Linked DNA regions of Homo sapiens: region 1 is linked to region 2. The links come from fine-mapping of genetic effects on gene expression. Tissue or cell type: whole blood. Region 2 holds a variant in brackets; the other region holds the start of a gene. All regions are shown on one strand. Distances are from middle to middle.

Region 1 (8,091 bases), 83 kb before region 2:
TTGGGAGGCCGAGGCGGGTGGGATCACGAGGTCAAGAGATTGAGACCATTGTGCCAACATGGTGAAACCCCGTCTCTACTAAAAAGTACAAAAATTACCCTGGCGTTGTGGCACACGCCTATAGTCCCAGCTACTCGGGAGGCTGAGGCAGGAGAATTGCTTGATCCCAGGAGGCAGAGGTTGCAGTGAGCCGAGATCTCTCCATTGCACTCTAGCCTGGGCAACAAGAGTGAGACTCCGTCTCAATAAATAAATAAATAAATAAATAGAAAGAAAGAAAGTTGGGCATCTTTTCACATCTAAAAGCCATTTACATTTGCTTTTCTAAGATTGTATGCAAATCCTTTCCCCCTTCTGTGGGTAGAGAGGCTTTATTAATCTTTGTAATGCACTACTTCCACAGTGCAGAACCAGCTTAAAGATCACCACTTTAGTTTTTCCTCCAAGGAAAAAGAACATTAAGAATGGTGAGGTCCAGCTGGGCATGGTGGCTCACGCCTATAATCCCAGCATTTTGGGAGGCTGAGGCGGGTGCATCACCTGAGGTCAGGAGTTCAAGACCAGCCTGGCCATCATGGCGAAACCCCGTCTCTACTAAAAATGCAAAAAAAAAAGTTAGCCGGGCATGGTGGCGTGTGCCTGTAGTCCCAGGTACTTGGGGGGCTGAGGAAGGAGAATTGCTTGAACCTAGGAGGGAGAGGTTGCAGTGAGCTGAGATCTTGCCACTGCACTCCAGCCTGGGTGACAGAGTGAGACTCTGTCTCAAAAAAAAAAAAAAAGAATGGTGAGGTCAGGTCTTGCCCCTCCCCCACAAATATCAACTGCTTTTTTTTTTTTTTTTTTTTTTTTTAATAGAAGGTTAGACAAGCAGTTTGTCCTGAGAGGGGCAAGTGCAGACTGATTTTCTGCTTAGGGCATAGCAAAGCTGGAGGACAAAAAAAGAAAAAAAAATTTAAGAATTTCAAAATGAGACATCTTGGGAAAATTAGTTAGAACTTTCTTGTACTTTCTTACACTTATTTTGTGATTTAGAATTGCATATATTTTGAATTACATTTGGAAGGGTACACACTATAATCTTTTTAGTCTTGGAATCCCTAAAGGTCATAATCAGGTTCCAACCACATGCTTTGGGAGAACTCTGAAATATTAAACCACAACAGGGAGGCTAATCATAGAGGCTATCACACAATGGGATCAAAATAGAAACAACCTTCATGTGTATCTGGCTCAAAACTGAAGGGCAGAGTAAATCTATTTCACTACCCATACTTCATTTTCTTTTTTCTTTTTTTTTTTTTTTTTTTTGAGACGGAGTCTCGCTCTGTCACCAGGCTGGAGTGCAGTGGCACGATCTTGGCTTACTGCAACCTCCGCCTCCCAGGTTCCAGCGATTCTTCTACCTCAGCCTGCCAAGTAGCTGGGATTACAAGCGCCCGCCACCATGCCCAGCTAATTTTTGTATTTTTAGTAGAGACGGGGTTTCACCATGTTGGCCAGGATGATCTCGATCTCCTGATCTGGTGACCCGCCTGCCTCAGCCTCCCAAAGTGCTGGGATTACAGGTGTGAGCCACTGCAACCGGCCTTCCATACTTCATTTTCTATTCAGAAAAGCTCAATTTTGGGTTAAATGGGCATGTCCTGGGATAATAAGAAAAAATAAAACCAATATAAGGAAGGGCATATTGATTTTTGGTTTTTTTAAATGCATGCAGGTGAGGCTGGGTTTGACAGATGTGTCCTCAGTTGTTTGTTTTTGAGACAGAGTCTCACTCTGTTACCCAGACTGGAGTGCAGTGGTGCAATCTTGGCTTACTACAGCCTCTGCCTCCTCGGTTCAAGCGATTCTTTATTCTCATGTCTCAGTTGCCCAGGTTGTTAGGATTACACAAGTGCACCCACACGCCCAGCTAATTTTTATATTTTTAGTAGTGACGGGGTTTTGCCTTGTTGGCCTGACTGGTCTCAAACTCCTGGACTCAAGTGATCCACCTGCCTCGGCCTCCCAAAGTACTGGGATTACAGGCAAAGCAAATAATGGAACAACAAAAGAACGAAGACAGGGATTTATTGAAAACAAAAGTACACTCCATAGTGGGGAAGCGAACCCACGCAGCAGCTCAAGGGCCCAGACACAGAATCTTCTGGGGTCCAAATACCCTCTAGAAGTTTCCCATTGGCCACTTTATGCTCTCTTGATGTAACTGAAGTGGTAGCCCACAATCAGTCTGAGTGGTTGCAGAAAGCAACCAATCAGAGGCCAGGGTGAAGTTAACAAAATTATACTTCTATGCAAAGGAAGACTCTCCCGCCATCAGTCTGATTGGTTGTGGACAGCAACCGTTCAGAGGCTGGAGTGAAGTTACAAAGTTGCAAACAAAGACTGGAAGGCGCTCAGTGTGATTTGTTGCAGACAGCCAATTTCCCATCTGCCATGCAGAAAAGGTCCAAGGGAACAGCCTCTGGTTCTTTTGTTACTTAGGCGTGGAAAGTTGGGGTTTTCCTTTCAATTTAGTTCTAAGAAGTCACGTGAAACAGCCATAGGTTCCCTGCCTCCAGACCCTATTCTCCTGCCTCATTTACTGCAGTCTTCTCTGCCTGCCTCTTTTAGCGACTAGCATGAGATGAGGATTCGTCTTCTAATATCCGTCACCAATCCTTCCCCTCTGTCATTTAGCGAACCACTCACTGGGCACTAGGACTTTGGGGAGAGTCCCAAGAGGCCCCTCTTCGTCCAGGGGCTACTTTTTTCTCTTCCAGCCTCCATCTCCTAACTCAAGGGGTACAGCTCAGATTATGTTTGGCGCCCAGGGACAGTGACAAACCCAGGGCCCGTGGATAGAGGAGGCATCTCACTACGCTGCACGAGGCCACCTCGCAGTAGGCAGCCCAGCCCTGCCCCAAAACCCAAGAGCCTAACCAGGAAGACAGGGGGAGGCCGCGGGCTTCATCTCCCAAGAGATGGACTACACCTCCCAGCAGGCTCTGCGCGCGGGCTGAGGATCCCTCCGCTCTTTTTCTGTCCCGCCGGCTGGGCCCCCCGCGACCAGCCAAGGGCCAAGGACAGGTCTTTCAGAATCTGAGGTACATCTTCTTATCACATTTCCGGGGAGGGACTGCTAGGAGCTCCGGAGGAAAAACGGACTTTTTTTGAGGAGAAAAGCGGAGGCAGACGGTGGATGACAACACGTCCCGCAGCTGCAGATTTTCGCGCGCTTTGGCGCAGGTGGTTGTGGGTAGCGCGCCTGGGAGGGAGAAAGAAGTCGGGGGCCGTGGCGCGCAGCCCGCGGGGCCTGAAGGGATGTTCGAGGACAAGCCCCACGCTGAGGGGGCGGCGGTGGTCGCCGCAGCCGGGGAGGCGCTACAGGCCCTGTGCCAGGAGCTGAACCTGGACGAGGGGAGCGCGGCCGAAGCCCTGGACGACTTTACTGCCATCCGAGGCAACTACAGCCTAGAGGTGAGCGGCAGCAGGTGGGGCGGCCGGACCCTACCCTCGCCAGGCCCCACCCCTGCCCCGCCCCTTCCTCGGCCTATGGGGTGGTGGGAGTTTCCCCACCTAGGAGGGTCGCTGCGCAGCCAAGCGCCGAGGGGCGGGAAAGGTGGGTGTAGCTCAGCCAATCCACCCATCATTTTGAGGCGGGAAACTGAAGCTCAGGAAAGGAGCGGCCTAGGTCCCGCGCCGCTCAGACCCCAGGCTTCCTGACCACACTTCCCTCTACCCCGCCAAGCGCCACAAAAGTCATGGTGCTGCCCTTAAATCAGTAAGAACAAATATAATGGTAAAGTGAAAATGAACTGCATGCCAAGACATCACTGCCCAGAGCTTTAAATGGACCCTCAGTTCCGTCTGAACCCCTTCTGTGATCCCCATTTCACGCAAGAGGAAGCGGAGCCCTAGACGGGTTAAGCTACAGGCCCAAGGTCACACGGTTAGAGATGGAGCCAGACCCAGGGTCTGAGCCGTTTAACCTCCACCCTCTGCTTCACCAGGGTGGAGCTGCCGGTCGCTGTGCAGCAGTTTGATCAAAGCCAATGTGCACACGAAGCTGATCTCAGCCCTACGTTTCCTCCTCCGTCAGAGCATCGTCCTGATGCTTTGCATCAGTGTCTGGCTCTGAATAAAACAAATGTCAGTTATAATTACTTGATTTTTTTCCCCATCATTCTTGCATTTTATCCTCGCAACAGCCCTGTGAACATGGCATGGCAATGAGTATTAGACTGCTTTCCAGGTGATAATGGCAAGGCTCAGAAGGTTGTCTTGCCTAGGATTATTCTAATATAGAAACCCAGGCTGGGCGTGGCGGCTCACGCCTATAATCCCAGCACTTTGGGAGGCCAAGGCGGGCGGATCACTTGAGGCCAGGAGTTCGAGACTAACCTGGGCAACACGGCGAAACCCCATCTCTACTAAAAAAATACAAAAACTAGCTGGGTGTGGTGGCGCCTGCCTGTAATCTAGCTACTCGGGAGGCTGAGGCAGGAGAATTGCTTAAACCCAGGAGGCATAGGCCGCAGTGAGTGGAGATCACACCACTGCACTCCAGCCTGGGTGACAGCAAGACTCTATCTAAAAACAGAGAAAGAAACCCAGACGAGCATAAGCCCAGTGTAGACAGAATTGTGATGGAGTGTATTTCATGTAGCACCACTGGCCTCATGTTCAAAGGCTTTCATGTGCCAAGGGCGCTGGACCCACTCCCAGGGTGCACCACTGACTCACCACCCAGTGAAATAATTGCTGGGTTCAAAGGCATAGAGTTGGAAAAGTGTCGATTGTATGTGTGCCTATATATGAAGGAGTAGTACCTGAAAAAAGTGTCTTCAGAACTGGATAGACTGGGTAAAGGACAATGGTCCACATCCGTGGGTGGCATGACTGGAGAGCTGTGGGAAGAATAAGAAAGTAAGGGAGATTAGAATGAATGGCGTCTCAATTGAAAACAGATTGATTTTTGAAAGCCTGAGAAAGCATTTCTGACATCCTAGGTCTGATTTGGTCTCTCTTGCCCAAGGTCACACCATCTGTCATTGAATAAGCATTTACTGTGTCAAACTATGGTCAAGGCATGCACCTGTTTCAGATTCTTGAATATGACAAGTTTGTTCCCAGTTTTGTGGTATATCCATGCCATTCCCTCTGCCTGGAATATTTCCCCTCACCCCCAACACCAGGAAAAGTTGAGAGCTAAATCTCTAGTTAGGCAGAGTTGAATAGGACATCTTCAATGTTTGCTCTACTTATTTATTTTTTCTTTCTTTTTTTCTTCCTTAGAAACAGGGTCTTGGCCGGGCGCACGGTGGCTCACACCTGTAATCCCACCACTTTGGGAGGCTGAGGTGGGCAGATCACCTTAGGTCAGGGGTCCAAGACCAGCCTGGCCAGCATGGTGAAACCCCGTCTCTACTAAAAATATAAAATTAGCTGAGCATGGTGACGTGCACTTGTAATCCCAGCTACTCAGGAGGCTGAGGCAGGAGAATCTCTTGAAACCAGGAGGTAGAGGTTGCAGTGAGCCAAGATCACGCCATTGCACTCCACCCTGCACAAGAGTGTAACTCCATCTCAAAAAAAAAAAAAAAATGGAAAGAAACAGGGTCTTGCTCTTTTGACCAGGCCTGGAATGCAGTGGTGCAATTATAGCTCACTGTAAACTCAAACTTCTGTGCTCAAGTGATGTTCCTGCTTCAGCCTCCCCAGTAGCTGGGACTATAGGCATGCACCACGGTGCTCAGCTAATTTTTCAATTTTTTGTGGAGATAGTATCTGACTATGTTGCCCAAGCTGGTCTTGAACTGGCCTCAAGTGATTTTTCTGCCGCAGCCTCCCAGAGCATTGGGATTACAAGCATGAGCCACCGAGCCCAGCCCAATGCTTGCTTTAGAAAGCACAAATGTATGAACTGAAATTTTGTGTTTATTCTATCCAGTGTTTATTTTCCTCTTTTTTTAAAATCAATTTTTTAAAGGTATTTGGAGTAGTCATTTTCATATATCTCATGCTTCCTAAGAAGTCTTTCTCCAATCCCTACCCCTCTCTAGTCTACCTGACAAACTCCTGCTTACATTTTTATTGATTTACAAATTTTGTCTCCTTTTGTGAGGCCTTCCCTAAACTGTAGTCAAAATCAGTTATTCACTGCACTATATTCTCCTACAACACTTTATCTTCAGTTCTTCTTATAGCTTGTATATCTCACCAATTATAAATGATAGTATCTGTTCCTCTTCTTAGCTCCAGATGTGAAGTTCTGTGAGATCAGAAAACATTTTTTGTATTTCTAAGGCCTGGCAAGTAGGCCTTAGAAATGCAAAAAATGGTTTCTGATATCATAGAATTCATAGAATTTTTATGAAATAGGATTTTATCAAATAGAATTGTATTCTATTTTATTCTCATGGAATAAAATAGTTGACTTTTTTAAGGAAAGAAAGTCAGGCCAGGCACAGTGGCTCACACCTATAATCCCAGCACTTTGGGAGGCTGAGGCAGGAGGATCACTTGAGCCCAGAAGTTCAAGACCAGCCTGGGCAACATAGTGAGACCCTATCTCTACACAAAATAAAATAGGCTGGGCATGGTGGCTCACACCTGTTATCCCGACATTTTGGGAGGCTGAGGCAGGTGGATCACTTGAGCCCAGGAGTTTGAGACCAGCTTGGGCAATATGGTGAAACCCCATCTCTACAAAAATTAGCTGGGTGTGGTGGCATGTGCCTTTAGTCCCAGCTACTCCAGAGGCTAAGGTGGGGGGATTGCTTGAGCCTGGGAGGTCGAGGCTGCAGTGGCCCTCATTCCTGGGAAGTCAAGACTGCAGTGGCCCTGATTGTACCACTGCACTCCAGCCTGGGGCAACAGAGTGAGACCCTGTTTTAAAAAGTAAAATAAAAATCAGTGTATTCTTTAATGTCTTTAAAAAAATCGAAACAATAATTTTAGGACTTATATTTTCACCATCTTGCTAGAATTTTCATTTAGTAGCCTGTATCCAAAGGCTCTATAATACTTGGATGCTAATCCCAAACAACTCTTTCTCTTTTTCTTTTTTGAGACAAAAAAAGGGCCTCAGGCACTTCTCCCATCTCAGCCTCCAGAGTAGCTGGGACTACAGGCGCATACCACCACGTCCTGCTAATTTTTTTGTATTTTGTAGAGATAGGGTTTTGCTGTGTTACCCAAGCTAGTCTCGAACCCCTGAACTCAAGCAGTCCACCCACATCAGCTTCCCAAAGTGCTGGAATTACATGCGTAAGCCACCATGACCAGACCCTATTCCCAAGCAATTCATTAATCAAAGCTTGTAAAAATATTCATCTTTAAGCTTACCTGCCTCATTTAGTGCTTTGAGAAAAGACTTCTCATTCCTTCAGGGTAGGAACATTGGGTTTATTGATGGCCACCCATTTCTACCCACCCCTTTTAGATTATTGCAAGAAATCTTTTTATCAATCTTTTTATCCTTCTAGGGTTTGGTCTTAAAGACAGTCTGTGGAACAGTGTATAAGAACACTATTGTGTTGTGCTATCAGATTTACATCTGTAATTCTTTTTTTTTTTTTTTTTGAGATAGAGTCTCGTTCTTTCACCCTTGCTGGAGTCCAGTGGGTCAGTCACAGCTCACTGCAGCCTTAACCTTCTGGACTCAAATGATCCTCCCATCTCAGTTCCCCAGGTAGCTCTAACTACAGACGTGCCACATACCCGGCTAATTTTTTCCTTTTTTGTACAGACGGGGGTCTCACTATGTTTCCTAGGCTGATCTTGAACTCCTGAGCTCAAGCAATCCTCTGCCTCAGCCTCCCAAAGTGCTGGGGTTACGAGCATGAGCCACTGTGCCTGGCCTTTATCTGTAATTCTTGTTTTTTTTTTTGAGATGGAGTCTCACTCCCGTTGCGCAGGCTGGAGTGCAGTGGCGTGATCTCGGCTCACTGCAACCCCCACCTCCTAGGTTCAAGTGATTCTCCTTCCTCAGCCTCCCAAGTAGCTGGGATTACAGGCGTGCGCCACCACACCTGGCTAATTTTTGTATTTTTTAGTAGAGACGGGGTTTCGCCACATTGGCCAGGCTGCTCTCAAACTCCTGACCTC
Region 2 (8,103 bases):
GCTACTCAGGAGGCTGAGGCAGGAGAATCACTTGAACTTGGGCGGCAGAGGTTGCAGTGAGCCAAGATCCTGCCACTGCACTCCAGTCTGGGCGACAGAGCTAGACTCTATCTCAAAAAAACAAACAAGCCCGGGTGCGGTGGCTCACGCCTGTAATCCCAGCACTTTGGGAGGCCGAGGCAGGTGGATCATGAGGTCAGGAGATCCAGACCATCCTGGCTAACACGGTGAAACCTCGTCTCCACTAAAAATACAAAAAATTCTCCGGGCGTGGTGGCGGGCGCCTGTAGTCCCAGCTGCTCCAGAGGCTGAGGTAGGAGAAGGGCATGAGCCCAGGAGGTGGAGCTTGCAGTGAGCGGAGATCGCGCCACTGCACTCTACCCTGGGCGACAGAGTGAGACTCCATCTCAAAAAAAAAAAACAACAACAAAAAAAGCCATTTTCTATATTTGTTATACATGTTGCTTACCTATCCAGGGTGGTTTTTCTGTTCCTACAAAACCAGACATCAGAGGTTAGCTAGAAAGCTGTGGATCACTTGCCTGTTTTGTGTTTTTTCTATGAGAAACTAACTGCTAGCAAGTATCTGAGCTACAAGAGCAGTGAAGTTCCAGAGAGTAGAAGTAAGCAAAAGATAATAGACGATGTCGTTTTCTGTTTTGTTTTCTTTTTGATAAGTATCTGCCAAAGAAACTTGGGTGACTGAGAGTTTGCCACTTCCTGTATATATAGGTTTCAGATCAAATTCTGCTACACAATTTCTTTCTTTCTTTCTTTTTTTTTTTTTTTTTTTTGAGATACAGTCTCACTCTTGTTGCCCAGGCTGGAGTGCAATGGTGCGATCTCGGCTCACTGCAACCTCCGCCTCCCAGGTTCAAGTGATTCTCCTGCCTCAGCCTCCCGAGTAGCTGGGATTACAGGCACCTGCCACCAGGCCCAGCTAATTTTTGTATTTTTAGTAGAGATGGGGTTTTGCTATGTTGGCCAGGCTGGTCTTGAACTCCTGATCTCAGGTATTCCACCCGCCTTGGCCTCCCAAAGTGCTGGGATTACAGGCGTCAGCCACTGCACCTGACCTTTTGTTTGTTTGTTTTGAGACCATGTCTTGCTCTGTCACCCAGGCTGGAGTACAGTGGCACAGTCACAGCTCACTGCAGCCTTGACCTCCCAGGCCCGAGTGATTCTCGACTCAGCCACGTCCTGGCTAATTTTTATATTTTTTGTAGAGATGGGGTTTCACCATGTTGCCAAGGCCAGTCTTGAACTCCTGGGTTCAAGTGATCCATCTGCCTTGGCCTCCCAAAGTGCTGGGATTACAGGCGTGAGTCACCGCACACTGCCTTACATACGGTTATTAACTAGATATATTTATTAGCAAGTAAGCAAACAACCATTGTTACAGATCCTGTACAGTGGTGGTGGCACAGGGCAGGGAGAATATCCAGTGATAATGAACTCAGGAATTCTGGCACTCAAAAAGAGAGAACACAGTGGCTTACATCTACAATCCCAGCACTTTGGGAGGCCAAGCCAGGAGGGTGGCTTGAACCCAGGAGTTCAAGACCATTGTGGGTAACATAGTGACAGCCTATTGCTACAAAAAATTTTTTAAAATAGCCACACATGGTGGTGGGCTTCTGTAGTCCAAGCTACTCAGGAGGCTGAATTGGGAGGTTGGCTTGAGCCCAGGATGTCAAGGCTGCAGTGAGCCATGATCTTGCCGCTGTACTCCAGACAGAGCAAGACCCTGTCTCAAAAAAAAAAAAAAAAAAGAGAGAAAGTTATGTAGGAGGATATACAGTCAGACAAGTCTATATTCAGATAAGTCACCTTCCAGTTCTTAGAGCTATGGTTAGATGCTATGACCCAGATTTGGACACACCAAAGAACACCAACTTGGGAAAAACAGTTCTGGTTCTATAAACAAATTCATTATGAGTTGTAAAATAATTACTGTTTAAAAAGCACACACACAATTTATATATCCTATGCAGTAAGTTCATATATCCCAGTTCTATGTCTGACCAGCACCCATAGAAAAGATTTGCTCAAGAACAGGTGCCAAGATTTCAGATGCAGGATTCAGTCAACCTTAAGGCTACCATCAAGCAAATACCGTGGATCAGAATTCAGGGCTGGACACAGGACTTCTCAGAGCTTTTAGCCTTAACATTATTATCCCTAAGAGTAAAGCTGAGAGACTTCACTGGATCTTTCATCCCTTTCATGGCTATTGAGGGTAGTGTCTCAAATTTTTTTTTTTTTTTTTTTTATTGATCATTCTTGGGTGTTTCTCGCAGAGGGAGATTTGGCAGGGTCATAGGACAATAGTGGAGGGAAGGTCAGCAGATAAACAAGTGAACAAAGGTCTCTGGTTTTCCTAGGCAGAGGACCCTGCGGCCTTCCGCAGTGTTTGTGTCCCGGGGTACTTGAGATTAGGGAGTGGTGATGACTTTTAACGAGCATGCTGCCTTCAAGCATCTGTTTAACAAAGCACATCTTGCACCGCCCTTAATCCATTTAACCCTGAGTGGACACAGCACATGTTTCAGAGAGCACAGGGTTGGGGGTAAGGTCACAGATCAACAGGATCCCAAGGCAGAATAATTTTTCTTAGTACAGAACAAAATGAGAAGTCTCCCATGTCTACCTCTTTCTACACAGACACGGCAACCATCCGATTTCTCAAATCTTTTCCCCACCTTTCCCCCCTTTCTATTCCACAAAACCGCCATTCTCATCATGGCCTGTTCTCAATGAGCTGTTGGGTACACCTCCCAGACGGGGTGGTGGCCGGGCAGAGGGGCTCCTCACTTCCCGGTAGGGGCAGCAGGGCAGAGGCGCCCCTCACCTCCCCAACGGGGTGACTGGCCGGGCGGGGGGCTGACCCCCCCACCTCCCTCCCGGACGGGGCGGCTGGCTGGCGGGGGGGCTGAACCCCCCACCTCCCTCCCGGACGGGGCGGCTGGCCGGGCAGAGGGGCTCCTCACTTCCCAGTAGGGGCGGCCAGGCAGAGGCGCCCCTCACCTCCCTGACGGGGTGGCTGGCCGGGCAGGGGGCTGACCCCCCCACCTCCCTCCCGGACTGGGTGGCTGGCCAGGCGGGGGGCTGACCCCCCCACCTCCCTCCCGGACGGGGCGGCTGGCCTGGCGGGGGTTGACCCCCACCTCCCTCCCGGACGGGGTGGCTGCCGGGCGGAGACGCTCCTCACTTCCCAGACGGGGTGGCTGCTGGGCGGAGGGGCTCCTCACTTCTCAGACGGGGCGGCTGGGCAGAGACGCTCCTCACCTCCCAGACGGGGTCGCGGCCGGGTAGAGGCGCTCCTCACATCCCAGACGGGGCGGCGGGGCAGAGGCGCTCCCCACATCTCAGACGATGGGCGGCCGGGCAGAGACGCTCCTCACTTCGTAGATGGGATGGCGGCCGGGAAGAGGCGCTCCTCACTTCCTAGATGGGATGGCGGCCGGGCAGAGATGCTCCTCATTTTCCAGACTGGGCAGCCAGGCAGAGGGGCTCCTCACATCCCAGACGATGGGCGGCCAGGCAGAGACGCTCCTCACTTCCCAGACGGGGTGGCGGCCGGGCAGAGGCTGCAATCTCGGCACTTTGGGAGGCCAAGGCCAGGCGGCTGGGAGGTGGAGGTTGTAGCGAGCCGAGATCACGCCACTGCACTCCAGCCTGGGCACCATTGAGCACTGAGTGAACCAGACTCCGTCTGCAATCCCGGCACCTCGGCAGGCCGAGGCTGGCGGATCACTCGCGGTTAGGAGCTGGAGACCGGCCCAGCCAACACAGCGAAACCCCGTCTCCACCAAAAAAATACGAAAACCAGTCAGGCGTGACAGCGCGCGCCTGCAATCGCAGGCACTGGGCAGGCTGAGGCAGGGAGGTTGCAGTGAGCCGAGATGGCAGCAGTACAGTCCAGCTTCGGCTCGGCATCAGAGGGAGACCGTGGAAAGAGAGGGAGAGGGAGACCGTGGGGAGAGGGAGTGGGAGAGGGAGTCAAATATTTTAACCAATCTGCTTATCTTAAATACTTTTGATTTCCTGAACATGAGCTCATTTTTAGCATTAGTCACACTTAATAAACATTCATTATTTTCATCAGTAAAAACCCATTTCTGGCTGTACATGGTGGCTCACACCTGTAATCCCAGCACTTTGGGAGACCGAGGCGGGCAGATCACTTGAGGTCAGGAGTTTGAGACCAGTCTTGCCGACATGGTGAAACCCCATCTTTACTAAAAATACAAAAATTAGCCAGGCATGGTGGT[A/G]AGCACTTGTAATCCCTGCCACTTCGGAGGCTGAGGCAAGAGAATTGCTTGAACCCTGGGGGCTGAGGTTGCAGTGAGCTGAGATTGTGCCACTGCACTCCAGCCTAGGCAACAGAGCAAGACTCTTTCTCAAAAAAAAAAAAAAAAAAATTCTGACCTTGAGTATGTTAATGAGCAAAGCATTGGTCATTGACTGAGATATGCCTAGCAGAAACTGTTGGAGTGGAGAATGAATTTCCTGATTAAAACACCAGCTCACTCCTCATGGGCTGTGAATTCTTCAATGTCATGTTAGCAGACTGCTCCAGAGTGGCAGTCTTGATTAGAATACTTGTGAGACCCAGGTTATAGCTTAACCTAAGTAACACAAACATAACACTGTACTCAAGTGTATTGTAGTTAATTGAAAACTTTACATTGCTTCCTTAGAAACTTGTTTTAAGGATTAAAAAGAATTATATTTAGGCTGAGTGTTGTGGCTCATGCCTGTAATCCCAGCACTTTGGAAGGCTGAGGCAGGAGGATCCCTTGAGCCCGGAAATTAAAGACCAGCATGAGCAACACAGCAAGACCCCTGTCTGCAAAAAATGAAAATAAAAAATTAGCTGGGCATGGTGGCTCACACCTGTAGTCCCAACTACTTGGGAGGCTGAGGCAGGAAGATCACTTGAATCCAGGAATTTGAGATTGGAGTGCACTATGATTGCACCACTGCACTTCAGCCTGGGTGATAGAGCAAGATCTTGTCTCTAAAAATAAAAAAGATAATTATATGTATATGTATGTATGTGTGGACACACACACACACACACACACACACACATAGTCATGTGCCATATAATGATGTTTGAGTCCGTGATGGTCCACACATACAACAGTGGTCCTATAAGATTATAGTGCTGTATTTTTACTGTACCTTTTCTATGTTTAGATATATTTAGATGCACAAATACTTGCCATTGTGATACAATTGCCTGTGGTATTCAATACAGTAACATGCTGTACAGGTTTGTACCTTAGGAGCAATATACTATACCATCCAGCCTAGGTGTGTAGTTGGCCATACAATCTAGGTTTGTGTAAGTATATTCTATAGTATTCTCATGACAAAATCATTTCAACAATGCATTTCTGAGAAGATAACCCATCATTATGCAATACACAACTATGTATACATATATGCATATATATAATATTTAATACAGGGCTTGTTCATAGTAAGGCCTTAGTAATAGCTATTATTTATAAGCAATATCAAATTTATTGTATTAATGAGTATGGCTTTTTTAGCATTAGTCACACTTAATAAACATTCACTATTTTCATCAGTAAAAACCCATTTCTGGCCGGACATGGTGGCTCACACCTGTAATCCCAGCACTTTGGGAGACCGAGATGGGGTCTCACTGTGTTGCCCAGACTGGTCTTGAACTCTTGGGCTCAAGTGATCCTCCCACCTCAGCCTCCCAAAGTGCTGGAATTACAGGCATGAGCCACCATACCCGGCCAAGTATGTTTTTTTAAATGTCTTTTTTTTCTTCAGTTTTTTTTTAATTTTAGAGATGAGATCTTGCTCTGTTGCCCAGGCTGGAATGTAATGGGGCAATCATAGCTCACTGCAACCTTGATTTCCTGGGTTCAAGCGATCCTGTCATCTCAGCCTCCCAAGTAGCTAGGGCTAAAGGTGCATGCCACCACACCTAGTTTTTAAATTTCTTTAATTTTTAAAAAAATTTTTATAGAGACAGGGTTTCACCACACCCAGCCTCCCACAATTTTAAATGTTTGGTTCATTCAAGTAAAGTATAGCTCCTTACCTTATGTTAGTATTAACAGCTGGAATTGGAATGACACAGAAATATAGAGACACTATAGTCTCTGTCTCAAGAAATTTCTAATCTAAGGAGGACATTAAATAATTTTAGACCAGGCGTGTTCGCTCATGTCTGTAATCCCAGCACTTTGAGAGGCCAAGGTGGGAGGATCACTTGAGCCCAGGAGTTAGAGACCAGCCTAGAAAACATAGGGAGACCCTGTCTCTACAAAAAGTAAAAAAAAATTAGCTCGGTGTGGCAGCGTGCACCTGTAGTCCCAGCTACTCGGGAGACTGAGGCAAGAGGATCAAGAACCTTTCATAAAAACAAAACAAAAAAATAATTTTAATTGATCCATATAATGAGAATAACCTAGAAGAGCTGTTAACAAGCCAGTATCCTTTGAAACAGTGTTTCCCAGAATGGTAGTATAAGTGTTTTGGGGGGTCCAGGCGCAGTGGCTCACGCCTGTAATCCCAGCACTTTGGGAGGCCAAGGCGGGCAGATCACCTGAGGTCAGGAGTTCGAGACCAGCCTTTCCAGCTGGCGAAACACCATCTCTACTGAAAATACAAAAATTAGCCAGACGTGGTGGCATGCTTCTGTAATCCCAGCTACCCAGGAGGCTGAGGCAGGAGAGTCGCTGGATCCCAGCGGGCAGAGACTGCAGTGAGCCGAGATTGCACCACTGCACTCCAGGCTGGGTGACAGAGCAAGACTCCGTCTCAAAAAAAAAAAAAGTGTTTTGGGGGAAGAGAGACTATACACAAAAAACTGGGGAAGTATGGAATTAAAGTGAACATGAGAGTTATTTTTTTTCCCCAACTGCAGTACTTCTCAGAGCCTTATACTAACATGAATTTCTGAATTTCCAATATAATATACAGCATTTCCTCAACTTTATTTAACCACATAGCTCCCCTCCCCTCCCACCCTCGTCAAGATCCTTTAGAAATAGCAGAAGTGAAAAAGACATCCAAATTAAGACTGACATCCCCTGGGGCTGTTTGGTTTTTGAACCATGTTTGTGTTTTCTGGTTTTCCTAAGGTGAAGGCATTGCTTCTACCCATGTTCTCAATGTTTGTAGGCCAGTGTATTGAGAATGAGAGCTTTTTTCATATATGTGCTAAATTCTTTTTAATTGGTAGTGGTTTTCTTAGCACATGGTTCTTGTGTATACAAGTAAATGATAGTTTGTAATACCCTGTAATACTCTTCCTTCCCCAAAAAATAGTAGGACAAAGTTCTGCCTGGTTTCACAAGCTATCCCAGAGTTGCACCATTAAGTAGGAAACTATGTTGGGGTAAGCTGTTATTTTACAATTGAGGGTGCTCAGTAAAACCTGAACACTGGTTCCTGATCAGGGTTCCTGTTGTATGTGGTACAATAAGGCTCTTAGAACACCTGTCACCTGCCATGTATTTGCAGAGAAATAAATGTAATTCATTTTGCTTCTTCCTTAACCTCTCAGGATATGCTTTACCTTTTAGAATCTTTCCACCTTTCTCAAAGACACAAGAAGAATATCTGCAGGCCTTTTAGTTGTCTGAAGCTGAGGTTTGCCACTGCCTCCCATACTGTAGAACTTAGCTAAACACCAGCCCAGGGCTGTTACCCCTCTAAGAGCCACTAGTGACAGTGAGCTCAACAGCTATGGTTGTGAAAACATTCTGAAGTGGAATCTAGAGAAAAGAGCACCACCTTCAGTTCATATGTTTGCATTTCTCTAGATTCCAATTTGACTTATAAGTAATACAGATGGATTGCTGAACCTTCTCTGAAAATATTAATTTCTCTACATAAAGATTTGTGGGTTTTTTTTAATATTGTAGAAAGGTCATTTAAATCACCAACTTGTATATTAAAGTATGCTTTGTGGCTGGGCATGGTGGCTCATGCCTGTAATCCCAGCACTTTGAGAGGCTGAGGCTGGTGGATCACTTGAGCCCAGGAGTTGGAAACCATCCTGGGCAACATGGCAAAACCCCGTCTCTACTAAAAATAAAAAATAGC

What was found. PIP is the estimated chance that this variant, and not a neighbour inherited with it, causes the effect.
Region 1: RBL1 starts here. The variant in region 2 is fine-mapped to the expression of RBL1 in whole blood (TOPMed, PIP above 0.99).

Annotation. Positions count from the first base shown.
Region 1 is chr20:37,091,141-37,099,231 of GRCh38, reverse strand. RBL1 (RB transcriptional corepressor like 1) reads left to right here and starts at 3,235. Exons shown (of 22, transcript NM_002895.5): 1 at 3,235-3,459. The coding sequence starts at 3,304. RefSeq lists enhancers at 2,777-2,826, 2,947-3,216, 2,867-3,543, 3,777-3,876 and a silencer at 3,447-3,506.
Region 2 is chr20:37,007,755-37,015,857 of GRCh38, reverse strand. The region is part of intron 19 of RBL1 (RB transcriptional corepressor like 1); the gene reads left to right. Among named protein-coding and RNA genes, the nearest start is that of SAMHD1, 60 kb to the right of the region's middle. RefSeq lists an enhancer at 3,145-4,086. The variant A/G (reference allele first, on the strand shown) is at 4,275.